4 linked regions of the Homo sapiens genome follow. The protein of the gene in region 4 interacts with the protein of the main gene of each other region in a biochemical or structural test. Each region holds a gene or a part of one and is shown on either strand. Other genes may lie near its edges.

Region 1 (7,280 bases), on a different chromosome or scaffold from region 4:
TTTATAATTTATCTTTGGAAAAGATTTCAGAGCCCCTGTACAAACCACTTCAATAAAACATCTTGTTTCGTTTCTTCTGAGTTTGCTGAGTGCCTCCTCAACAGCATACTCCAGGTAGTGTGCTACATGTGGGGACTCAAGGACTAATTAGACATAGTCTTTCCCCTCTGTGCCATGACTTATTTGGGGAACAAAAAACTAAGATGTAATGTAATAGGTCTATAAAGGTAAGTATGTACAACATGATCTGGGAACGGAAAGAAAGGAATGATTCTATTTAGGACATTAAGAAAATGCCTTCTTTTGCAAAGAATTCAGCTGAATGCCACACTAGGGGGAAAATTTTTAGCATAAAGGCTTTGAAAGACTACTACAGTATTTTAAAACAAAGGGCTGGCAAGAAATTACATATTCTGAATAGGTCATTCTGGCGGCCATTAGAGCAGGTAAGAAACTGAAGGCAAGACCAGTTGCCAGGCTACGGAAATAATTGGGGTTAGAGATGTTAAGGGCCTTGATTAGGTCAATGGCAATGGGAATCCAGAGAGAGAACAGATTCAAGAGAAGTCTGATTAAAAATACAAAGCTTGATCATCATCTACTTTATTCTTCAGTCTTGGCTGTGTATAGCATTGTGCAATTTTAAAAAATCATTCTCTAAAGATAAAGATTTATCACATCACTGGGGTTATTCTAAAGAATTAGTTGCAAAGATTCAAAAGTGTTTCAGTACGTTCAATTTTTATAAAAACAAAGGAAGAAACACTGTGGGGTGTGTGTGTGTGTAGATAGATACAAGAGATTCTGTAAAGATACACAGCAAGGTCTTAGTGACTATCGAAACTTAGTTTAAATGATTCTGCTAATCTGTATTTTCTGTTTTTCTGTAATGACAAAGCATCTTTTTTTTTTTAAACAAAGAAAAGGTTTTTTTGTTTTGTTTTGTTTCGTTGTGAGATGTGTCACCCAGGCTGGAGTGCAGTGGCACGATTTCAGCTCACTGCAACCTCTGCCTCCCGAGTTGAAGCAATTCTCCTGCCTCAGCCTCCCGAGTAGCTGGGATTACAGGTGCCCACCACCACACCTGGCTAAATTTATTTATTTATTTATTTATTTATTTATTTATTTATTTATTTATTTATTTTTGGTATTTTTAGTAGGGACAGGGTTTCACCATGTTGGCCAGGCTGGTTTCAAACTCCTGACCTCAAGTGAGCCACCTGCCTTGGCCTCCCAAAGTCTTAGGATTACAGGCATGAGCCACCACACCCAGCCAAGTTATTTTTTAAATAGTAATTTTAAAAATCCACAACCATTATACCTAAGAAAGAGTTCTAAAAATCTTTTTAACAAGGTCAACATGGCTAAAATAATTTCCCCAAGTTTACTTTAGGACAACATTCAGTTGAAATATTAAAATAAGTTGCACTATTTCATAGCTATACCTTCTAAAATTAAGGTATTAGTGGTATAAACCATTCTAAAATGACCTGTGCACCTATTTTGCTATTGTTCACTACATTAGTATTACTATACATAATTAAAATAGAAGTTATCTATAATTTCGACCTTCCATTACCTTGTAATTTTGTCTTTCTTTTTCTTCCAGGGAAATAATGAGTTCTCTAACCCTCACTCCCACCCTGCCAAACCCTATTCCCCATAGGTATAATTAATGAGCTCAGGTCTTCCATCTGGACTTAGAAACATGAAATGCTTCTTCTGCCTCGCTCCTAGTTTTTCCAAAGCGAATGAGTTTATACTTGGATACCCTCACTGTTGCACGTCTGACACTTGGCATAGCTAAAAAGCATCTTCTCCACACCTCTGTACAGAATGGCCAGAGCTCTCTGTATGTCCTGCTTTACAACACTCTCTTCTCCCACCTGGGTCTCCAGAAGCACACTGATGGCAGTTGGGAATGTGTCTCTCAAGCACACCACGAGTTCCCCCAGAGCTATAATTCTACAGCTTTCCAGCAGGCCCCATTCCCATTCTCCAGCCCCCTCCTGGACTATGTATGAGGGAGGGATGAGGTGGTGGATTGAGGACATTTATTTAATAAGAAGTCAAAGGAAACATGAACAAATTATCATTTTTTACATGGAACTCACAAGCTAATTAATCAGAGAATTTGTTAAGAAATGGGTTATCTACTCTGGTGCAGTAGCAGAAATTAACATTTTTGACTTGCCTTGTTTTGCCAATATTTAAGCAGTTTGTTCTATTGAATGTGACTACATGTACAGACACACTTTTATTTAGTCTCACACATGAAAAAAGAAAGCAGAAGGCCTGTTATCCAAGTGGTTTCTCATCCAAACATTTTTATAGCAAATTACTAAATCTAGTTGAAAACAATAGGAAAGAGGATACTTTTCCCTCTAGTATTTGTTCTATCAACCTAGACTTAGCACAGAATATCTGAAATTGCAGCTAAAATAAAGGCTTCATTTTATAAAATAACATTTGAGTTGTTCCTGTATCCATGATCAGCATACAGACCTGCTAAAAGCAGAAAATAATGTTATGTTCCTCTCTATGGGATGAGTATTTCAGTAGTTTTAAGGAAAGAAAATCCTGAAAAAGAATTTAGAAAAATATTAATAGAAAGGAGGAGGATGCTTCAAAGTAATGCCGACATACATCATTTTCCCTCCAAGGCTATTAGCACTGAAATACTTTTTGCTGACTATATGGCACTTATTCTATACCTTTTGTTAATTAACAAGTAAATAGGTGGCAACAGCAACTATATTAAAGTAGAAAGCCTTTCTATAAATGAAAGTCAGAATTCAAAATTTAGAAGGCAACATTGTTTGCTTCAGATCTACTTGTTACAAATTGTGGGTTTGAAAACATGCAACCTTATCTCATGATGCACCATAACTAGTATTTAGTTATACTAATAACTCCAAATTATGTAAACAATAGATACCCCGAAATCATATTTGGGTTTGTTTCAGAGATATTTTTGGTTCTTATATTTGGACTTAGGTACTCTTGATCTAAAAATTCACTCAACCTCCAATAAAATAATGAAGGCACAGATAAAAAATCTGATAGAGCTGAATATCGAAATTCCTTGCTTTTAACAGGCGATACAGCGCATTCTTACTCTCTTTTCTCCTAGATCAGCAGGTGTCCCCGCCGCTCCAGTAGACTGAGAAAAAGGAAAAGGAGGGGGCGACAAGAAAGGAAAGGAAATTGTCTAGGTGTCCTGGTGGTGGAGGTGGGGGGTATTTTAATTTCATAATTAAAAGCTCTCTTCTTCGGCTTTCAAGTTTTTACTCCTATTTGTAATGATTTGATTGAGGACTGTGCAGCAGAGTTTGGGTATGTACATCTCTAACATAAACGGAAAGGAACAAGGAAGGGACGGATAGGAGACAGCAAAGGGTTGCGGGGAGAGAGCAAAACGTAGGCGCGTGGGGACGGGAAGGGAGAGGCGGATTTGGCAGTCAAAGAGGGACGAGAGGAACAGGAATGGAAAGTGTGGACTGGCCGTCCAATCCTATGGGGGAAGGGGAAAGGGGGGGCCCACCACGTCGCACTCCTCCCCACCTCCAGGCTTTTCCTGTGTAGGCTGAAGCCATCCAGGCGTGTACAAAAGAGTCGGTTGCTGAGCCAGGAAGGCTGTCTCCCCGGGCTGCGCAAGCTCCGGGCCGCCTCTCCTGGGCTCAGGAGGGCGGGCAAGGATAAGAAGGCAGAAGCCCCAAGGCGGACAGCTTTGTGGGCGCCTGGAAGAAGGCGAAAGGCCACCAGCCCAGACCCCGAGGGCGCTTGCCCGCGGGACTCGGCGCCGCAGGCCAGGGCCGTCCGTGAAGGGTAGTCTGTGCCTACGTCCTGCCCTACTGGTACCACTCGGACACTCTATCCCCGTCCGACCCTTTGCAGGGCTCGACTTGTCTCCCCGACTGCCCGTCCTTAGTCCAGGTTCTCCTGCGCGGCCCGGGTGCGGGGTCTCCTCGTCATCTCGGGCGACACTCTGCAAACAATATGGCGGTCGGGCGTCGACCGTGGCGCCTTCTCTCCGGGCCCTCGGGGTTGACGAGGGGGACTACCGCCGGCGCTCCCGACCCGCGACGCGCGAGCCCCGGGCGGGCGGGGGAGGCGAGAGCAAGAAACCTGTGGGACCTGTGGGGAGCCGCGTCCGCGGGGCTGGCGCGCGCGGGGGCGGCCTCGGGCTCGCGCGCAAAGGCGCGGGCGCGGGCGGGGGCGGAGTGGCGGCGGCAGCGGCGGCTAGAAGCGGCAGCCCAGAGCCCTCTCGCGGCCGCGGCGGCAGCAGCAGCGCCAGCCCCAGCAACACTGAGGCCGCCGCCGCCGCCTGGCGCTCCCGCCGCCCGGCCCGACATGAGTGAGGCGGTTCGGGTACCCTCGCCCGCCACTCCGCTGGTGGTGGCGGCGCCCGCGCCTGAGGAGAGGAAAGGGAAGGAGTCAGAGCGCGAGAAGCTGCCGCCCATCGTATCGGCGGGCGCCGGCGCGACCGCGGTAGGTGGTGGGCCGGGGCCGTCTGGCGCCCCGGACGGCGGGAGTTGGGAGGGACGGCGGCCGGGCGAGGGCCGTCAGGAGGCCTGCGTTTACCCTGGGCACGCCCTGGCACTCCAGGGAGACGCACTCAGGCCGCCCTTCCTTGGGCAGAAATAAAAGAGTTGTGCCTCGTGGACAGCCCCGAACACTTCGCGAGGTACACCTACCACCCTCGGGAAATGTTGGGGGTGGTCGGTTCCGCTGGATGTTTGGGTTATTTTCTGGGGCTTGGGCCCCCACTTTCTCTAAGAGAATGACCTGCATCTTGAGTCGGCATGATCTGTTGGATGAGCATAGGTGTCAGCAGGCGGGAGTGGGTTTTCCACGGAGGTGCCTGCCTGCCTGCCTGCCTTGGAGGCGCGCAGATTTTTGTCCTTTTCTTCGCTTTTCTTTCCCTTCCCCCTTCAGATTAAACAGGCTCTGCGGCGAGTTTCCACTTAATTGTGACCTTTCCGTTGCTGTCAGTGTAGTGGGAGGTAGATGCATCAGTGATGGTTTTATTTTTCATATGGTACAGACATGTGACTCAGGTGGGGGGAGGCTTTTTGAACCTTTTATTTAAACCCAAGTTATCTAAGCTTGACAGGGATGATTTCCCAGCTGTATCTTCGTAAGGGTTATTTGGAGAGCGCTGTCAGGCTTCAAACTACATATTGCCAGATGATGTCATGGGACAGCCCCCTCCCCCTCTTTCCCTATTTTTACTGGTGGTTGTGACTGGTTAATTTGAAGCACAATTTAAAAAAAAACCTCGGATTTTGCAATTTTTTATTTTGACATAATATTTAAGTACTTTTTGAAAGTTTGCTTTGATATATTTAAAGATCATGACTTGTCATGCAGCTGTGTGTGACAAAATAGTAAAAGTTTAGTGAACATTATACATTTTCTTTATTCCTACTTGCGGTTCATTTCTTAAAACCTCCCTCTTAAATGACTAAGAACTTACTAAAATAGCTCACTCTTCGTTAAGTACTGTATTGGTGTTAGGAATAATTTTCGGATTCGGTAGGTTTTTCAAAAATGTCTGAGGGCCCTGATAACTGGAAATTGTTAAAACAAGCTCTTTAAATCAATGCAGCAAATTGCGAACAGTAATGATACACGTTTAAAAGCGTAGCTACAATTGATTGGTAGATTGGAGCTGGGGTTAGGGATTACCCTAGAAAATGCTTTGAAGGAATTTGTCACCCAGCTGCTTGGAGACCTGGTTCCTGCTGCTGGTACCCTAGGTTTTCAGATTTTATATAGGAAGTCTTTAACTCACAGAATTCCAGCAGTTCATTTCTAAGTTGGTTGTTTAAAACAGTAAATGTATGTACTTATAGAAACAGTTAAATGAGTGGGTTTAGGTCCTCAAGCAAACGCTCTCCCAAAAACCTATTCATCTCATAACTGAAAAATTGCCGTTTTGGAATTTGCAAGTGTGGATACAAGTCTACAGTCTGCTTTGGGATTTCAAGTTTTTCAGATTTTAGAAAGGTAATTCGGTACATATATCATATATTATTTAATACCCACAGTAAGGTCCTAGCCAGTTCTCTCTAATCAACCATCTTAATAACTGTAATGAAATTATGTGTTCATGCTAAAGGGAAAAAGTCAGTAGCGTCATGTCATTTCAGATTAGGTGCATGTTTTTGCCACCAAATGAGTTGCAAAGACACTTCAGTTTCAAGAATTTATAGGACTTTGAAATTGTAAATAGAGGATTATGGACTTGTACTACTAGACAAAGAGAAGAATATATTCAAGAAAAAAATTTAAATCTTGAATTAAACTTTGAAAAGGTATGAGTTGGAATAGAAGAGGATAAGGATAAATATACAAAACTTGAGGGTTTTTTTTTTTTCTTTTTGAGACGGAGTCTTGCTCTGTCGCCAGGCTGAAGTGCAGTAGCCTGATCTCGGCTCACTGCAATCTCTGCCTCTCGTGTTCAAGCCATTCTCCTGCCTCAGCCTTGCTTGTGCCTTATAAAGTCTTTCAGAGTCAGTACCATTGATTATTTATTTTTTAAAAAAAAAAACAATTTATGACAGGATCTGTGGCAGAATGTGTGTGTGTGTGTGTGTGTGTGTGTATTTGTCAAAGAGAGACTTCAAAGCTAGAATTCAGAGCTAATAGCAGTGAAAAGCTTAAGTGTAGAAAATCTATGCTTGGTCCTTAGTCCATCCAAAGGATAAGAAATCCAGGAGAACTGGGGTGGTGATTGACTTTTACAGCAGCTAGGAAGGCCTTGGTATGTGTGGGGAGGGGGAGGAGGTCTTGATGTGTGAGGTAGGTGGGCAGGGAAATACAGCTTGTGGCCTCTTGAGTTGTTTTTCAGCCTCCTGTAGATTAAATAGAGCTCCTAGAGGTTTGCTTAGGAACCTAATTGTCATCAATAACTTTTTCTTTGAGACATTCCAGTGATTGTTCCTTTTTGCCCCAGCCTAATGGTTCTGCCTGTCTAGTTTGTGTCTATGACTCAATTCGTGACCCTACAATAGTGGCTTTTTCAGAAAATCATTGTACCACATTTATAAATGAATATATATGAATAAAATAATATAAATATTATCAATAAGTAGAAGGTCAGTTTACAGTGACCCTAAATAAGGTTGAAGAGTTAGGCTGTATCCTTTATGTTTACAGAAAGGTACAGGGGTGGGAGAAAGAATGCTGGAAAGGGCAGCCCTGAAGTGTTTTATCCTAAGACCATCTAAACGTGAAGGAAGTCCATTCCAGCTAGTGAGGAGGTGCCTAACACA
Region 2 (4,727 bases), on a different chromosome or scaffold from region 4:
TACAAATGCTTATGAGGAGAAAATGGTGCCCCAGTCCTGTCAGCCAGTGGGCCAGCTTCTGAGGCATAGGACAAATCACTGTGGAACATATTCAGGGGGCGAGATTTGGCTAAAGCTCTATGACTGTGTAGAGAAGATGAGCCTGAGCCAGTGTTTGAGTAGGACACATAAAGAAAACCTTTAAAAGAATGAACTAATGGGCTGAGCATCTTCTTACAGCACTCAGAAATATATGCCTCCATTTTCCCTAATGAATACTTTGCAGATTTCAAAATTGATGGGGAAATTGCGTGGCTAAGATGGAGATCTGCCAAAGAATTCAGCTAGTTTGTTCTTAAACATACCTGGCCTTCATCATTCCTCTTTCTATGCTTGGGCCACTAATACCAAGTTTTAATTTTCTCCTTTCTTGGAAGTCACTAGAAATCCAGTACATGCATACACTTTTTTCACTAAAGACCAACATCTTTGTTTTGAGAGTTAATAGCAGAGGATATTCAATATAGAGAAAATAGGAGGAAAAGAGTAGAATTTCAGTTTCAATTTATTTTTATATCACCATTTAAAATGTTCTATTTTGTATTTGTTTTCTAATATGAAGAATAATGTAACAGTTTGTATATATGATTTATAAATCAATGTGCATATGTTGAGAATATGTGCTTTACACATCTTTTTAAATGGCAGGGTGCAAGATTAAAAAAAAACTGGAGACAAATGTTCCGAAACACATCCCATTTCATTTAGGTAGACATGTTGTCTAGAAGGTACTTAGTGTTACCCTAAGAAGGTTCTAGGGTTACCAATGCTGTGAGTCTAATTCCTTGCAAATCAAGGACTTCCCAGGTCTCACTCTTTTCATTGTAAAATAGAGAAAATGAAAATAAGCTACCTAACAGTGAAGGAACTGGAGGCAAGTTTCTTCCTTGGGAAGAAAAATGACCTTAAAAATCTGCATGAGCCATAAAGTCCTGGTCTGAGACCTGAAGGAAGCAGGGCGCTTATTCTTTGCTGGAGTGGCAGAAGGTGGCCGTCTGGGTCTGAAGTGCCCAGGGGAGGCTGCAGAGTTAAATCTCACAGACCAGTCTGGATAGACCAGCTCGCTTTGCTCCAGTCCTTACATACAGGTTTATCCATGGCCTTAGCTGCTGTTTTATAAAACCCTTTTAGGCTGGAGGAAGATTTAAATAACACACACAAAAACACTACAAACATCATCAACAACAATGAAAAACCACACTGATTTTTTACCTTCTGCTGTACTGCAGTAGGTACATTCGAAAAATTCTTGATAGTGCAAGAAGTAAATAGGAAAGTTCCCCAGGGAAAACCCTTTGACCTAACGGGGGCGGTAAATAAGAAAACTGTCCTCAGCACTGAGAGAAGGAACCATTTATTTAGTCAAATTATTTTACAACATGGTCTTCTTTGACAGTTGTCAGCTTAACACTTAATATAGTTAAAAAAGTCAACAATTACCTGCAAAATTATATATATTTTAATGTCTAAAAATATGTTGCTTATATAGAGCAGGAAAATCCCTCCTCTCCACAAGGGAAAGTTTCGTTGTTTTTCCCAGAGCTGTGATTATTGCAGTACTGTTACACGCATTTCCAAAGCATTAAAGATCTAAATGGATTATCTTTTCCCTGCTTGTGTATGCCTGTTAAATAACTGTACCAGTGCTTTGCTTTCTCATAAGTCAGTGACTTAAACAGCCCTGTTTCCTTTTCAGCTATAGGCATATTATGCTTTTTAAAAACCAGCTATAAAAACATACAGACAGCCCAAATGTACAGATTGAAAAAAGATGTACAAATTACATTAAAAAAAATAACAGCGATTGATTCGATAGTAAAACTGCTTTTGTGACCGAGGTCAACTCGTTTATTTATTCTTAATTTTTAATTATTTATTTTTAATACTGTGAGATATAGGAAAATAACTCTGCATAATTTATACAGTAAGTTGCCTTCTGATTGGTTGGCCCTGGTCTGATGGTCTGACAAGCGCACAGCACTTGCGAATCTGCTTGAGTTTAGAAATCCCTACAACTTTTCCAAGTTCTGGGACCACTGTCATCATTTAAAAAAAAAAAAAAATTAGTAATTTAATTCCCCGTCTTTCAGGAATGTATGTATTTGCATTAAAATTTCTTAGTTCATATCTTGACTATTTCTAGAGAGAGTGGTCAGCTGAGTGCATACTGTCCACTGAGAGGGATTCTGCAATGCCCTTGGCGTCTTAAACACACAAACCTTCTTTCCATCAAATTCCAGTTGGGTGAAAACTTCACTGGCCTTACAATCAATGTTCCAGTTGCCATCCACTGAATTTGGTCCTCCTAAAATTAGATTATAAGCTTCCCACCTCTATTTGTCACTAAATCTCAAACCAGAACATGACGGGTTAAGTCCATGATTCTGTGTCATACTGAACCCCGTGTATTGACAAGAAACTGCTTTGGTCATAAAAACATAAAGAAAACGTACAGCTTCTTTCTCAGAACCATGACTTAACCATTCCAGTAATCTTAATATGCAACTCACAAGATGCTAGGAGACTGAGAATTCAAACTGGCATACTGGCCCATGGAATTATTCATCTCTTTGTTCAGGTAGAGGAAGCAAAAGTTACCAACATTAAAAAAAATGTTTTTAAAGAACAAATACAAAGGTTCTATCCAACAAGAAAGAACATCCAGTTTTGTCTTCCCTTCAAGGCCACATATGTCCTGTTGAGTCCAAAGCATCCAGTAAGTGTGCAGGATGGGCTTCAGCTAGAAGGCCACTGATGAGTAAGCTTCTAGTAGTAGCTGCCTAAGTGTGAAGGCACGTGGGTGTTAGGATGGCGGGGGACGTTGGGGTTGGGGTAGATTCCCCCCGTGGGGGAGGTCCAGTATTGTGATGCGGCTCCAAAGAAGCTGGAGGAAGTGACAGGCATGGAGGATGGATGGGGAGGGACAAAGTTCACCTTCTGCTGGTGGGCATGGTAGGAAGGCATGTAGGAGATGTCAGAAGGGTACTTGTACATGGACGACTCGGTCGGATGTGGCTGCAGAGCCTGGGCAATGCCGTGGAAGTCAAATTTGTAAGCATATCTTTTGCCGTGCACTTTGGTCATAATGTTTTTATCATAGTAATAACGGAGGGCCCGGCTCAGCTTGTCGTAATTCATGTTGGGCTTGCTTTTCCGCTCGCCCCAGCGCCTGGCCACCTCATCGGGGTCCGTCATTTTGAACTCCCCGTTGGTCCCCTCCCAGGTGATACAGCTGGCGTTGGCGCTGTCGGAGAGCAGCTCCAGGAGGAATTGCCACAGCTGGATCTGCCCGCTTCCTGCACGCCGTGAGGCAAACGGGAGAGAACAGAACACCTCAGCCCAGAGAAGGCAGAACCCAGTTCCCTAAATGCAGGGAGCTTCTCATCCTTTTAAAGAAACCTTTTGTTTCCTTCGACATTGGGATCGACTTGACAAGCCCTTCTTATGTCATTGTTGATTTGCCTTTCTGCTTGCCTTGGAGATGGGTATAATAAGCGAGGTTAGATCCTAAGATGCTTTGCCCCAAGGCCTGGTAAATGGAATGTGGGAAGTGAGGTGCAAACTCTGCCCAGAACTAGCTGTGTGATCTTGGGTGAGCCATATCCCCCCTCAATCCCTTTGGCAAGGCTTTTGAATCTCTTCATCTAGAAAGGCCTGAATCACTGACTGATCTCTAATTAGTGGTCATGTCCCCCAGGGAATTCCCTGTCAGCAATAAAAAGTCAGGGGCAAGGCATGACTGTGGGAGTCATTGGGAGAAGCTGCGCCATGAGCTTTAGCTTTTGGATGGACAGGACCTGGATTGGCCCTTGGCAGGCCCAGAGCTTGGCTTGCAGCTCTAAGTTCTACAGAGAACTTGTGCAGAGAGAAAAATACCCAGAATATGCTGGGTGGCTGCTTTCTCCTCTGGCAGTAATGACCAGGCACTAAGGAATGGGTAGGCAGAGTCCCTGGGATGGGAAGGTGAGTGGGCCACACTGCGACAAGGGCCTGCTAGCTCCCAATCTCGATGGACTTGGTTTAGAAGGACCCTCTTGAGAGTTATTTTTGATACTAAATCTTTAAAGTACAAGGTCAAATTGACTATATCTGCAACTTTTCCAGGACACATCTCTTTTATAAGGCCAGATAACTTGGCAACACTTTCTAAAATCACAAATAAAACCCTTTGGAATATTTATGAACTTGTGCCTGGCATGCGGGAGACAACTGAGAGCTGAGTGGAGTTGTCTTCTTTTCTTTCTTGCCCATTTTCTCTGATTGAAACGCCTACCTACCTGTGCCACTTATTACTCATCTACACCTAAGTGCACATGTGCAGTGCTGATGTGTTTATTCCTAGAAGTATCCTCAGCTAACCAACCTTGACACCTCATAACAAGCCCTGACCTGTTGTTCACATGCTCCAGAAACAGACATTGAACATTTCAAGGAAAGACGTGCATGTTACTCCCCACTCAGGTGTCTGGACTTAGGACAGAAGTCTCTGTGATTTCACAAAGCTACGAAACATTCTGGCAAAAAAGGCTTGCAGGCCAAGGTAAACTCACCAGGGTTGGCTAGGCGACTGCTGGTCGGGCCCAGGATCTGATACGGATCTAAGGAAATAAAAAAGGAAATTTGCTTCAGTGTTTTTAAAAAATATGACAACCGTACCAACCATAAGAAAACCATAAGGGTTTATACTT
Region 3 (7,542 bases), on a different chromosome or scaffold from region 4:
GACAGTGCTCTGTGCTAATGGTGGTATGGGAAGTCTGCTGAGGGGTCCTTTCATTCAACTCAACCCAGTAGTAGACTAGTAAGTGCAACTACAGTAAGCCAAATTCTGAAAACAAGAGGTGGTTCTGCAAGTTATTTCACAGCTAAACATCACGCCTAGCTATAATCTTTATATTAAAGGTAAACACAAATCAGTTGCTCATTCCAAGTTTGGGTTTTCATCCCCTTTGAAACAACAAAGAGTGTACCCACTTCAGAGGCCAGTAAGGAATTGGCCTGCCAGCCCAGCCCCAGCAAAGGAGCTGCTGCAGATAAACAGTGGTTAGCTCTGAAGTCATCCAGACAGAGGACACTTTTACATGACCCCCTTTCTCGGCTTATACCATCACTTCACTTCATAAACACGTCAAAGTTTTGAGGATAGTTTTAGAAACCCAGCTAATAAAGCTGGCTTGTTAAAAAGAGTAAAGCCAACTAATTACCAAAGACAGACAAAAGAAATATTAAAACTTTTTTTTCCAAGAAAAAGTTTTCTCCCTTAAGAGATATTGTACAACAGGGACACTAGGGCCAGTGGGCCCAGAGCTTTCTTGAAGTTCACTGACAATTTCACCCACCCTATGCTGCAAGTTGCTTTTCTAAGACATGCCAATTTGCCAAAATATTTAACTGTTTACTAATTAGTGAGGAACAGTTGAAGGCTGGAAGAAATGAGAAGGAAATGGTTTAGGGAAAGAGAAAGCAATGCAAGAATTGAATAGAGCAATCAATTATTTACTGATACTTACAGATTCTCAGAGGTTTTCAGAGATATACAAGGCCTCAAGGGCAAGTAGGGAGATTTGGCACCAGGTCCCCAATCTTCTTGTCAATAAACCAGAGGCTTACCTCTTCACTGTTGGTGGCATACTTGAAAAGCAGATTCCTTGGTAAGGATGCCTCCGCCTGAACCGAAGTACCGCCATCAGCACCAGAATCCCAGGGGTGGTCGTTCACAATGTATGTACACTTCTCTTCAAACTCAGCCTCTGTCCACAGAGTCATATCCGCATCCTCCATGTCCATTTTCATGGTCCCCTTGGTCCCCTCTGCCAATCCCTGAAACCTCACAGTGCTGGAGTTACACTTGGGGGCAGCCTGGAAGAGAAAGGAAAGGCCTTTAATCCCCATTGTCCCGCCGTTCCTGTGGCTCCTTCTGAGAGGCTATGACTAATACAGTAGTCTGAAGACTTTAAAAGCAGATGCAGAGTGCTTGGTACAGTTGAGAAAGAGCCAAGAAGCCGTATAAAGTAAACTGCCTTGAAAAGAAGCAAGGTTTTTAAATGCTACTCTTAGTTAAAAAAAAAAAAAAAAAAAAGAATGTGGCAACCTCACTGTGGGGAAAAGGAAAAAAAAAAAAAGAATCACCTCTGAACAATCCCTGGCTTTACCTCTCATGGCAGAAAAATGTTCTGGGCACACAGTCCAGTGTCCCAGAATGCCTGGGGTCATGGCCGCCAGACCCTCGGCACTGTGGAAAAGCTGCCTCAGAAAAGTGTCACAAACAAGGAGAGGAAGAGGAAGGAGCTCTGTCTGCCTCTGAATGAAGCTAAAAATGGAAAGCGCGTGTGGTGCAGGAGCGGAACCCAGCCTGCCTTTTCCAAATGGGGAAGACCGAACTTTCCCACCAGCTCCCAACGCAAAACAACTTTCAAAACAACTGCCTCCTCCCTCTGCTGCGAGCTCTCTTTCATCCTCTCACATGGAAGACTGAAAAGGGTTGCATCCTGCCAGCATCACTGAGCTACGGCCTCTTAGAAATCACTTGGACCACAGGAAAAGAGGAGGAAAAATGGGTGAAGGGGAAAACAGCCTGCAGTGTCTTCTGACTTGCAAGCATCTCATACCAAATTGAAAAGGCAAAAACAAAACATAAAACCGTTTAATAAAATTCCCTGGAGAGAATTCCTTTAGGAGTCCTCAGCTACAAATAGCACTTTCCATTTAAATCTGAAAGTGTATGAATTCCCAGAAGTCACTGATGTACTACAGTTTACTGTAACTAAAGTTATAACAAATTTAGAAGACTTGGAGGACAAGCTCTGCTTCCACTTGTACATTGATGAGGATATTCCCCCAAAATCCTCCCTCACACTCAGAAAAAAACTGTTTTCCAAAGGCAAAAAAAGGTAAACAACTTCTGTAAGGGTTTTCTCATATAGACATGTTTGATAAAAATGAGGAATATGGGTATCATTTCCATGTAAGAATGTGTGTTTGTTCAAATGTAAACATAACATTCTGTGGAAGTCCTTCAAGGAGGTTTTTACATTCTTCCACTTCTCTAAATAGGATGCTCTTAAAAAAAAAAAAGTTGGATGCAAAGTTGTTTTTCCCTCAGTTATGATTTAAGCAAACCTGCTTATTTTTATTTAGTTCCAACATGTAGAGTCATGACGCCAAACACATGTTAAAAATAAAATAAAATAGAAAACTTCAGCCAACCCGGAATAGTTTGACGAGTGTGAGCTGGAACCACTACTGAAATTTCAATGAATTGGCAATTATGTCTAGAACTGAAAGGGTTAATGATTCATAAGGAAAGTCTCACAAATGTTTGACAGCACTAAGTGCACTAAAGCAGAAGCATGTTTCTACTGCGACATTAGCCAAAAAAAATTAATAATAATAACAATAAAGGAAAAGAAAATAAAGTTTTCAGATCAATTTCAGAATTAAAAAAAAAAAATTCAAGTTCCTTACCAAGGTCGTACCCACACGTTTTTCCAAGCAAATATCCAACATCTGAGAAAAGTCTCGTTCATCTCTACCCAGTCCACATTCTCCCCGCGTCCCCCGCCAGGCTGAGCCGCACAGACGCGCACCTCGGCGGTCCCTCCTCGCTTCGTCCGGCCGCCCGGGCGCCCGCGTCCCAGCTCCGGGCGGACAGGTGCCGCGGTCGCTGCTCTTGCCTCTCCGCAACACTGGAGGGCCGAGTGTCACGGCAGCACTTTGTCTGTGTTAACCGTCTGGCTTCCCCTCCCTGCTTAAGATTTCCTTAGCCACTCGGCTGCGCGAAGTGGGGGCGTGGCCAACGTGGCCAACACCACCTGGCCGAGCCCAGGGCTTTCCCCCAGATTGCTAGCACAGCCGCCGAGAGCTTCCTCTCTTCGCATGTGTATTTCAACATTGACTTGGAATCTTCTTACTTCCCTTTGAAGGCACTTAACCTCAACGCTTACTTGGGCTCTATTGTATTCTAAACACTCCAGATCGCCCTCCTTCCTGGCGCGGCAGAATTAGGGGGCGCACGTTCCTTAAATTAAGGAAACTTAAAATTTACCTACACAGTTTCTGATTTCTCAGCTCAAATCCCCAGGTACAAAAGACACAAATCTTACTTCAAAAGAGCAAGTTAAATTGTTTTTGCAGCTAGTGTAATACAGTGGAGCTGTCTGGTCCTCAAGCTGTTGTGTATGTAACGCACGTTTCCCCGCCCCCCGCCCCAAAAGTTGTAACATTCCGTTTCTCCTGCTAACGTTCAAACTTGGCAGAACTAACTTTCCTCTTTTAACTATTTAGTAAATAGGGAAATAGGCAAAAGTTATAATTCTACAGATTGTTTGTTTTCCTTTCCTCTCCTCCCAGAACCCACAGGCTGACTTCCCAGGAGTGTAAGTAAAATGTAGAGCATTAGTCGTTTCACAGTTCAGAGGAATATTGAACTGATCACTGCAAGTGGAAAGCGGTCGGAGGCAGTAATTAGTGGGGCTTATTCTGAGCCCCGGCCAGCTTTTCCTCCAGCCCAGTCAGTCCTCTGTTGAAGGAAGGACATCCTGTGATGATGGCATACAATGTCCTGTTTGTTTATTATTAAGAGCGTGGACCTTGCATTCCTGCTTCTCATTACAAAACAAACCAGATGCTTTACTTCCTTCAATGGTCTTGTGCCTTCAGCAAGGAATCCTTTAATTCAGAGAAACAATGTTTATAGCAAACACCCCATTTCAATTATTATTTAGATCATTGAAATCCAGGTCTTCCATTTTTCCTGCTTGCCTTACCATAGGTAGGTTTTTTTAAAATCATTTCTCCTTCGACCTGCAATGTCTTTTCTAACATTTTAAATACACGTGTGCACACACATCCACCCACACACACACCCACATACACACACCCAGTTCCAACCTAATGATACCAACTTAGTCATACAATGAAATGGACATCTGAGTATTTGTTTACAGGAAGAAATGAAACAAAGCAAAACAAAAGCCCAACTCAATCCTAAAAAATATGTCTGTTTATCTTTAAAATTTCTTTTCTCACTTTTAGAAAACTTTTCTAGAATTTTTTTTAGGGGAGAGGGGGAGAGGCAAAAGATTATTTGCCAGGAAATGGTGTCTAAAGTCTTGCTGCAATCTCTCTCTCAGTACAGAACAATTAAATTCCCACTAGGGGACATGATTAGCACACACTCGCTGCTTGCTGCGTGGCCCACCTGTGATTGCATGTTATGCCAGAGGGGACGCTAGCACCAAGAGGAAGCAGGACTTTTAGAAGGCAGATCTGCTGGGGGTGGAAAACTGAATGAACAATTCCTAAGAGTCCTCAGAAAGCTCCAAGCTGATAATTAAACAAGAGAAATCCAGCCTGCTCAAGAGGGTTTATTAACTGATGCTGAGTCAGCACCACAATGGACAGAAAAACAATGTAGTCATACTGAAGGCTGGCCTGCTGTTCAAACAGTCTCACTTGCAGATGTTAAAGAGTATTTCACTTCCCTTTTAGAATCAAACTCTGTTCTTAGGCCACATACACCATCATGCAACTGCTGGTGAGTCAACCATGATAGAGTAAGGGAATAGGCAAAAAGTTTGATATTTGAGGTGGGAAGAAGGCTATTTTAAGCCAAATATTTGCTTTAATGACTGGAAGATGCCAGTGAATCAACTCACTGTTAATTAATATCAGCCTGCACTCACCTTCAGAGGTGGTGAAATGGGCTTGAGTCTAGGGAGGACGCAAACTTCAAATACCAGTGTGGGGCTTAGCCAGGCAACCCTAAAATTAGTTCCAGGTGTCCCAGCTGAGCTGGACAAGGCCACGGGTAGAACTTTAAGGAAAGTAAATTTTCAGACACAGAGTGTTGGAATGTAAAGTCCTTCACATGTTTGCTTCTTGTCTCAAAGTGATTGGGAAAAAAAAAACCTCCAAACCAACTTTTGACTATGATTATAGTAGTCAATGATGGATATCATCATTTAAAATGAAAGCTACCAAAAAGGAAGAAGAAATAAAAGAAAGGAAGCTTGCTCCATAATAGGAAAAAACATGTCCATATTGTAATATTTAGGTATTGTCCAGCACAAAACCATTAAGGGGGAATAAAAGGGACTGACCTCTGAACTTCACTCGGTCCTCCCAGAGGGCCTGAGCAGTGCACCTTTTTACTGCTGACTAAAGCTGGGAGACCCTGGCAGCAGTACAGCTGTGCAGAGAGAGCTATCAGAGGCTGCCACTGTCTGGAATCTTATGTCTCAAAGGGTTTGTTTCTAAGTAATAACTTGGTGCATTTTTAGTCACTATATTATTTCCCCCCAAGTTAGAACACCGAAAAGAACCTCAGTTATCTTTATTAATCAGCATTTCTCAGGCAGAGCTCTCACATTAAAAGTGTTCACAATGGCAGCAAATCATGAATGAGCCAAATAGTTCTGTTCTCAGAAATTCTCATCTATTCCCGTGGATGGCATCATCACAACAGTTCCATCAGCCAATTTTAATTCGGTTTCAGCTACTGGGCCAGTTTTTTTCCTCTCCCAGTTCCTGGGTGGATTGGGAATTGCAATGTTGGTGGCCAGATGACTCTATAGGGAAAGGACTATTGTAGAATGAAGGGAAATTGAGCACCAAATCTGGAGACCTGAACTCCACTTGGGGAAAAAAAATTTTTTTTTTCGAAAGGAACTTTTTTTTCCTAAGGTAAAAAAAAGGGATGAAATGTACCCAAGATGAAACATGTTTTCATTTTCTCATTCAACTCCTGCCATACCCAAACAAGGTCAATGACAGGCTAACCACATCAAGAGAATAACCCCCCCACCCTCTTCTTCCTACTCCCTACCACCCACCCACCCTCACCCCCCACACCCATTTCCCGCTTCCTGTAAGTTAGGCATCTTCATGCTGGTAAACATTTGGGGACCAACTGTAAGCCTGAGCCTGAGAGAGGGGCACTGAGGCTTTGAAGCCCTCCCACATGTCTCAAAGCCAGGCTGAGAACTAGAGGGACACTTGGTTTTTAAACTTTAACAGCCTTTTCAACTCAAATCACTGGGCTTGGCCTTCTGGCTGCCTTCCTTTTTAAAAGCCGGACAAGAAGAGCGAGTATGTGTGTATGAGTGAGAGAGAATATATGTATGACACATGCTATGTTACAATGCAGCCTGTGTGTGTCATTGGTGTGATATGTGTACGATATGTTTCGATGATGAGTTGAATCAATTTAAAAATAGCACAAGCTTCCTTCTCATGACACAGCTCACCTCCCAAAAACTTTTGACAAACATATTCAGGGCCTAAACATTGGGACGGTGACCTTCAGGGGCTGTTGGATGTTTTGGAATGAGGTCAGTGTTTTGACTTCCTACATAAGGGAAACAAAAATTAAGTAAATTCAAGAACACAAGTAGAGCTCCCTTCCCACCCTAGGAATGAAGATGTAAGTGTTCTCCAGAGGACTTTATAAAACCCACAGGATGTCCAAGGTCTCAGAGTATTTATAGAACCACCTGTATCATTACATCTAAGTATTAATATCTTTTTTAGCCCTCCCTTCAGAAAGACAGTTGTATTCTCATCTAATCATTTATATATGATTTTAAAATTATTTTTTAAACTATTCCTTTAGTTCAGCATCTACCAACTTAATAAATGATAATAGCAATACTAATCATTTCCAGATGACTTGTGGGGAAACCAAGGTTTGGGGTTTCCAAAATTTGCTTTCCCTTCTAATTATATTTTTATCATAGTGAATATTCAGACAGAAGAATTTTAATTTCTGAGAAGTCTGTGGGAAAGAACAGGAGAAGGAAGATTATTTCAGAACTCAGAAGACACTTCCTAACCTTACAGCTGGTGGGAAAAAAGGAATAATCCTAAAATTAAACTAACAGAAGGCAAAACCTGAACTGTTAACAAGGGAGAAAAAGAGCAATAGGAAAGGTGTCCACTCTGAAACTCATCTCTTGTCTTTATTTGGAGAACCGGAAGAGTAGCTTCCACACAAATGAGAGAGCAAGACTGTGGGTCAAATGTTTGCTTCTCTCACCTTTCAGTGGGAGGAGAAGCCATTCTGGAAGAGGGGAGGACTCAAGGTGGAAATAAAGGGAAGGTCGCCAAGAATAAGATTAGGGAGGACCAGTTGGCTTAAAAATGAAGGTGAAAGGCTTCTATGGAGGATGAGCAGGAACAGCAGCAGAAGACCCAGTGCAGGGAGGAGCAGTCCCCTTGGAAGAGGAAAAGGGACCCTACAGTTGTACCTGCCACCGTGTGCTTCCCT
Region 4 (6,998 bases):
CCCTCCTGCTTCTAAGTTCCTAAAGATGACAAAATACCCTCCACATTCTTAAAAATGACATTTATGGGTACTCCCCTAATGAAAAATTAAACCTTTCATAAACAAATGTGCATAGAGAATTCATTTTGATATGTATGACTCACAATCTAATTTTTATTGGCAATATCTTGAAGTGTTGCAGCTTGCACAATTCCTACAGGGGATAAAGATCTATCTGTTTTTCCCATCTGATCTTTGCACATTTCTTATAGATTTAAAAGGACTCACTAAAAAAGCCATGAGGAAAATAATTATGAATACAATCCACAGCAAAATGAAGTATGGGGCTGAAACCTAAAATAATGAAAAGTCACTGAGTTTTATGTAAAGCTTCACAGTTGAAGTACTCTATTCCCATTTAAAATTTCAAAAAATCTAGATTTTTTTCTTCTTACTCTGATTTTTCCTATCATATTAGGAATGTATGATATTTACCTCCAAAAAATCACAAACAAAAAGCCTTCAGAAAATATCATTTCCAAAAGGAGTATCTGCCAAACCTTACTGCACAGAAAATTATATATACACATTCTCTTTTTTTTAACACATTCTCAAATAACTATGGTAGGCGTTCCTGAGATCACCTCCTCCACCCCTCAAAAAAAGAACAGCAAATCTAACCACAATAAAGTATTAACCAAATTTTTTTAACGCCGCTATCACCAGCTAAGCAATTTATCACACAGCTCCTCAAAGTCTCAGACACACACAATGACATACCAACATGTCAAAACAGTTATTATAATTTGAAAAATTATACAACAGGAACATAAGAGTAGAAAAAAAAAACTTCCTCTGGAAAAACTCTAGTAGATTTGGGAGAGCACAAAAAACGAGATTAATTTTAGAAAAATAACATTTCTTCAAGTGTTTGGTGTTTATCTGATACTGGTTCATTTTCGTAAAGAGAAACTTTACCTAACAAGACTCACACCAGGGATCTGATCTATCCCCAAAGGCACTTTCTTAAAATGAGAAAGAACAAAGAAGGAAATCTCTCAGCATGTGCTTTCCATACTAGTTTCTTTGGACAGCATCAAGAGTGACAATATAGTCTGCACATGCTTTTCAGCTTTATTCTATGGTCCATGTATAACAACTGATTAGCTATCATTCAAAAGAACTCCTAACAAAATAAATATTACAAGGCAAAGATCACAGCAACATAGTGACTCTAAGAGAAAAATTATAGAAAACATGTCTTAAAGTTGTGTGCTTTTTTTTATTTCAAGGGTTAATTATCTCCAAATATTCAAATTCCTAAGGCTTTCTCATTTCAGTCAATAGTTTGAAACTGGGGAAAAATCAAAACCATCCATTGTAAATCTGCTCTCCCTTCAGTAAATTTGTAATTAGAAGTACATTTTAAAAGAATGACACTCAAAGCCAATACCTTAACATACGAATCTTGGAGTGTAAACATTGTGAAGTTATTAGGAGAAAAGCTCTTTCGGTGAGGATATTCCACAGGAAAAACTCTACAGAATCAAATCTGGCATTTGGTTGTTCTAGAAGTTGTCGTTTCATTATAACGGGGAAAAAATTAAATAATTTTTATTTATTATAAAAAGAAGACTCTCCCCAAAGATTTACAATTGTATATCCCCATCTCCTCTCTGACAGAGATGTCAGTTCTCTGGGTCGAGACATAACCAGCTGCTGGGTTCACACACACAGGAAGCCACAGAGAAGATCGCGTTCAGAGCCTCGAAATAATACGCGTTAGTTAAGAACTGCCTGCTACTAAACCAAAATTATTCAAGCGGAGCCCCATTTGTCACAATCCAGTCATAAGGGTTCCACCACCCCCTCCCCCAACTGCTTGTGTAGTGGTATATCTGCTACGGTAAAGAAGCCATCATCAGGTAAAGATTGGGGTGGGAGAAAAGCGGGGAAAAGGGGGCACCCTTTCATCTAATTTCGTGAGGCGTGAGTAATTGGTACTGTTAAGAGGAACGTTCTATTTATCGGGGGTTGGAGTAGCATGAGGGGAGAATTTCGTTCAAATCAACATGGCCAGCAAGATGTCCCTACAAACAAAAGGCAATGGGGGGATATAAACACGAACCATTCACCTCCATCAGCTACAGCATCGCCATCATGGTGTGTGCAGAGACCCCCAAAGGCTCCTCTCACCCTCCACACCAGCTAAGGCAAAAGAAGGGAGAGAGGTAGCTGCATCCCCCCCTCCCAACACTGCTTCCAAAGACACACTCTTCGAGGGGGTTTCTCCCCTCGGCTGCCCGGAATCAGAGAGAAAGAGTAACGTCCCGCTCACTACCTCTCAGCCGAACCCCAACGCCGGCCCGGGGCTCGCTAAACTTTACCAGAGCTTCTCCCCCAGATCCCCACCCTATCGCCCCGGGATCGCGCTTCCCACAAGCGGGGCACCCCAGGCGCTTCCTGACAAGCGAGCAGCCGGGGAAAGCCGAGTCCGGGGCGGGGGCTACTGGGATCCACGGAGGGGCGGGGCGGCCGAAGCCAAGTTCCCGGGGGTCTGAGAAGAGCGCCTGACAGGAGCCCGGGACTGCAAAGGAGGAAGAGGAAGCGGCCACGGGGAGCTTTCCCAATCCCCCCTACGAGAGCACCCTGCCCCCAGCCCCAGCTCCCCATGGGGGGCAGGGAGGCTAACTGGAAGGTGAAAAAGCCGAGCCCATGAGACAGCTGCAGCCCCTACCTCCGGACTCCCTATCTCTTCCCCCGCCACCCCCGCCAGAGGCGCCCACAACAATAACACGCCGGGGACGACCCGTCAGCGCCCCCGAGGCACCCGGGGCCCGCGGCCCGCCGCAGGCGGGCCCCCTCTGCTGAGACCGGGCGCGCCTCTCTCCCTACAACTCCAGGCCCGGGTGGAGTCAGGCCCGAGAGGCCCCCCAGGGTCGGACCCATCCCCCCTGGCAGCAGCGGCGCCGTCTCCGCGGCCGAATATTAGAAGTGAATTCGAGCTGCGCTTTACCTTTAGTTCCGCACTGTCCGCCATCTTGCGTCTGTCAGCGCAAGCGCAGTGAACTTCGCCGGGGGCCGCCGCTAGACCCGCCCCTCTAGCCGGCCTGGCCCCGCCCCGGCCCGCCCCTCCACCTTCCCAGCCCGCCTCTAGCCTCCGCCCCGCTCAGGGCGCTCGAAGCCCCGCCCCGGGCACGTACAGCTGCGAGACAGGCACGTTCCATTTAAATAATGGCGCCAAGCGGCGAGGTTTGACAGTTACTGCCCCCTCGGTCTCCCTGCCCCCCATCCTAGCTCGGCCAGCTCCTCCCGGGAAGGGCCGGAGCGAGAGGGATGCTGGCCTGAGCCCCATCTCTCTGCGGTCCGCGGAACGCTTCTGCATAGCTTCGACGCCTACGGTCACAGAAACAATGCTGTCCCCCAACCCCCAATAAGCAAGGCTTTTTCAGCACCTGCTACCTGCGAGGCTACCAGTGGGCTAAAAATAGAAATCCATTACATTTAAGGGGCCCTTAATGAAGCATTTCTATCATTATTGGCTCAGATCCTCTTGATAACGAGGGGAGGTAGGCAAGGAAGAGATAATTCCCATGGTATAGATTCAGAAATGAAAGCTCAGAGAGGAAAAGTGACTTGCACAAACAAGTATTTTAACGAGGTGGCGTAAGACAAAATTTTGAAGGTGTTCATTAACATTTTTGTTTAAAAAAGTATTTATTTAGTGACCATCTGCTTGCCTTGTGCTAACGGCTAAATATACATTTTGAAATCAAAGTCCGTGCCCTTCTGTAGTTCTCTAATGGGGAATCAGAGAAGTGAACGAACAAAGATACAATTGCAAATGTTAGTGAGTACCAGAAAGGAGCAAAAGGTCATTGAGAGAGAGAAAGGGTTTGGGAGATGTACTTAATTCTGGGAGGGTTTTATCCACTAAATTGACATTTAAGTAGACTTGATGGAAGGATTATTTCATTCCTTTTCGTCTCTACTGAAAGCCTTCTATATACCTCCTCCCCAACCCCCACTTTTACTAATCAACTTTGCCTCATAACTCATGGAAAAAATGAAAGATATCAGAAATAAACTCCCTTATCTTCTCACCATCAAAACCACCCTTATCTGCATAGTAACATTTGGGTTGCTATGAATGAAGTGTCCCTGCGCCTAGGAAGGCCAGTCCCTTTACCAGTGACCGGATTTTTTTCACGCACATTCCTAAGGATTTTACTCTTACAATTACCTACCCTCCAGCATCGTTAGTTTTTTCCCTCTCAATTGAATTGCTCCTATCAGCATATAAATATATTGAAATTTCTCCCATCTAAAATAAACTTCCTTTGACTCCAAAATCGCCTCTAGGAACTGCCCTATTTTTCTGCTATCTTCATAAATTCTTAGAAAGGTTTTTCAAGATCTCTCCAATAGTGCTTGTTCCTACCTCTCACTTCACATTCACTTCTCAGTCTACCCTGATCGAGCTTTGGCTTCCATCATCTGTATCACTTATCAAGATTACTAATGATCTTGTTTCCAAAGGCAATTGCCAATTCTCTATCCATATCTCAATTGACCTCTCTGTAGAATCGCGAATAATTGACATGGTTCCTTTGATTTGAAACACTTTTCCCCCTGAACTTACCTACACGTCACAGATAGTCCTGTTCCCTCACTGGGCCTCCTTTTTGATATGCTGGTTTCTCCTCTTTGGCTCAATCTTTAAATGTTGGACTGCTCCAGGGCTCGGTCCTTGCATTCTTCTCTATTTTATCACCAGGTGATCTCATCTAACTGGTTGACTTGAAGTCTATATGCTCATGACTTTGAAAATGCTCTCTAGCCTAAACCTCTCCATTGTCAAGAAACAAAAGTAAAACAAATTGAGATTCAAGATCTCATTGGCATTATTGCACTCCTAGAATTGGACAAAACTTCATTCCACAAAATAGAATAAATGTTGCAATGAATCAAGCAGAGGATGTTAACTTTAGAGACAGAAAATAGACTGAAGAAGGCAGAAACAACAAAAAGCAGATTGGTTATATCAAAGTCACTTTTCTTTAAGGTGGAGACGTGGAGACAGAACAGTAGAAAGAAAACTGATTGGTTAACATTGGGTTACTTCAGGTATTCTATTTTAAGGATTAAAACAGGAAATTTCATTATCATGCCTGTTAAAGATTGAAACTTCTGTTTGGAAAATTGGCTATCTCTCTTACCATTTTTTGGAAAACCAGATAACTCAGTTTTGTTTTGGTGAACATGGGTGACACCATTTTGATTTTTAGTCTGATCTGGAGGCCTGATGCAGGAATTTGGTTGAAAACAATGGCATCCCATGATTTTTATTTAACAACCTAGGTGAAATTGTGACTAAGACTGAGGGCATTAGCACTACCCTCATTTAACATCATTCTGTGTTTCCAGTCTCAACACATCATTTATAGATTACAGTGTCCTCATGATTTTGTATTTCTGTCATTGCAGCTGAAGAGAGACCATATGACATTCAACAATTGGCTGTATGCAAATATGTAAAACTTTTTGAGAGAACATAATTGAGAATTGTGACTATCAGGAGGACAATGCCAAGAGTTCGGAGTATGCTTCTTAGCTAGGGTTGCCATAAACCAAACCAACTAAAATCAAATAGATCAAAGAATGAGCCAGATGAGAAATCTACCTGTTTTCACCAAGTAGCCTGCTAACTTTTTGAAACTGAGTCTCTACAATACCAGATTATTTATGTACAACAAGAAGTGACAGCAACAGCACAGATTTCCCCGTTTGGTTAGTACGCAGCAATTCTATCATCTAGCATCTCAGAAATGGGTTAAATTAAAGCAAAGAGTGCTAACTCTACAAAAGAGGCCACTAGTAAAATTTGAACAAACAGTTGCATTAGGGATGTTGCTAAAGTTACCCACTAGGTGGAATAAAAGCTCTCTTGGGTCCTGTAAATGTTTGGGTTTGACCCTTTATCAACTTACCCACAAAAACTACTAATTGTGAAATTTTAACTACAGCATTATCCTGCCAAGTGGAAGAGGTGGGCATAAGCAAGAAAAAATTAAGAAGGGAAGGAGTCTTATCATGGTAGCGAGTCTTATTCTGACAGTCTTGGAAAACGCTGTCCACAACATGATGTCAGCAATTTCTCATCCTGGTTTGCAGTTTAAATGTCTCTGGCTGTGGCATCAGGTGTTCTGCTAAACTCTCTATGTGGCTCCCTCATCAAGCATGGGACTTGTCCCTTGAAATTTATATCGAGTTGTTCAGCTTAGCAGTTTTTGTTCATGGTTGGAGAATTGCAGTCAGATATTGAAGGCAACAAGAACTCAGGATCCAGGCTAGTCTATAGATAGATGATAAAAACTCAAAAACAATGAACAAAGCTGCAATCTAGTAACAGGTGTACTATGGTTTTCTTCAGAAACATAATTTTTCTCTCTACAGTCATTCCCATTTCTACCAAAGATAATCATGGTAAGACCAATTTATTTTTAAAATTAATTTAGTTTCAAACTTGACCTGATTATTTACATAAGTGCGGCAAGAATAACCACATAGGCTTCTTTTAAATTTATTTTGCTGGAAATTGTGACAACAAATCTGGACTTTTAAAAACCTCTTGATGTTAGGAAGTCAAACCAAGGCAGACATCAGACTTTGCCTGCAATATCTAATATCTTGAGGCTTCTGGGCCTGCCTGGAAGTGACTACTTTTATTCACTATAAAGCTGAGAACACTTGAAAATTGGCATTCTATGATTCCATGCACATTTTAAAATATGACATTGCTATATATATATATATTCATATATATATTCATATATATGAATATATATATGAATATATATATTCATATATATGTATATATATGAATATATATGTATATATATATGAATATATATATATACGTATATATATATATGATATGGTTTGGGTCTGTGTCCCCAACCAAATGTCACCTTGAATTGTAATAATCCCCAAGTGTCAAGGGCAGGACTAGGTGGATA

Evidence for each region.
Region 1: of the proteins of PIAS1 (region 4) and HECTD2, one has a biochemical effect on the other in vitro, tested with the Homo sapiens proteins (one study listed by BioGRID).
Region 2: of the proteins of PIAS1 (region 4) and FLI1, one has a biochemical effect on the other in vitro, tested with the Homo sapiens proteins (one study listed by BioGRID).
Region 3: of the proteins of PIAS1 (region 4) and PRDM1, one has a biochemical effect on the other in vitro, tested with the Homo sapiens proteins (one study listed by BioGRID).

What each region holds. Positions count from the first base shown.
Region 1 is NC_000010.11:91,406,086-91,413,365, forward strand, and holds the start of HECTD2 (probable E3 ubiquitin-protein ligase HECTD2), read left to right. Parts: upstream 1-4,258; 5' UTR 4,259-4,353; coding exon 4,354-4,491; intron 4,492-4,543; exon of another isoform or gene 4,544-4,687; intron 4,688-7,280.
Region 2 is NC_000011.10:128,809,067-128,813,793, reverse strand, and holds the end of FLI1 (Friend leukemia integration 1 transcription factor), read right to left. Parts: intron 4,638-4,727; coding exon 4,590-4,637; intron 3,336-4,589; coding exon 2,806-3,335; 3' UTR 527-2,805; downstream 1-526. UniProt on the Homo sapiens protein: Sequence-specific transcriptional activator. Recognizes the DNA sequence 5'-C[CA]GGAAGT-3'.
Region 3 is NC_000006.12:106,081,795-106,089,336, reverse strand, and holds the start of PRDM1 (PR domain zinc finger protein 1), read right to left. Parts: upstream 3,002-7,542; 5' UTR 2,784-3,001; coding exon 2,742-2,783; intron 1,584-2,741; exon of another isoform or gene 1,491-1,583; coding exon of another isoform or gene 1,407-1,490; intron 1,137-1,406; coding exon 888-1,136; intron 1-887. UniProt on the Homo sapiens protein: Transcription factor that mediates a transcriptional program in various innate and adaptive immune tissue-resident lymphocyte T cell types such as tissue-resident memory T (Trm), natural killer (trNK) and natural killer T (NKT) cells and negatively regulates gene expression of proteins that promote the egress of tissue-resident T-cell populations from non-lymphoid organs.
Region 4 is NC_000015.10:68,050,348-68,057,345, reverse strand, and holds the start of PIAS1 (E3 SUMO-protein ligase PIAS1), read right to left. Parts: upstream 3,032-6,998; 5' UTR 3,020-3,031; coding exon 2,996-3,019; exon of another isoform or gene 2,121-2,995; coding exon of another isoform or gene 2,115-2,120; exon of another isoform or gene 2,111-2,114; coding exon of another isoform or gene 2,108-2,110; exon of another isoform or gene 1,463-2,107; coding exon of another isoform or gene 1,433-1,462; intron 1-1,432. UniProt on the Homo sapiens protein: Functions as an E3-type small ubiquitin-like modifier (SUMO) ligase, stabilizing the interaction between UBE2I and the substrate, and as a SUMO-tethering factor. Catalyzes sumoylation of various proteins, such as CEBPB, MRE11, MTA1, PTK2 and PML.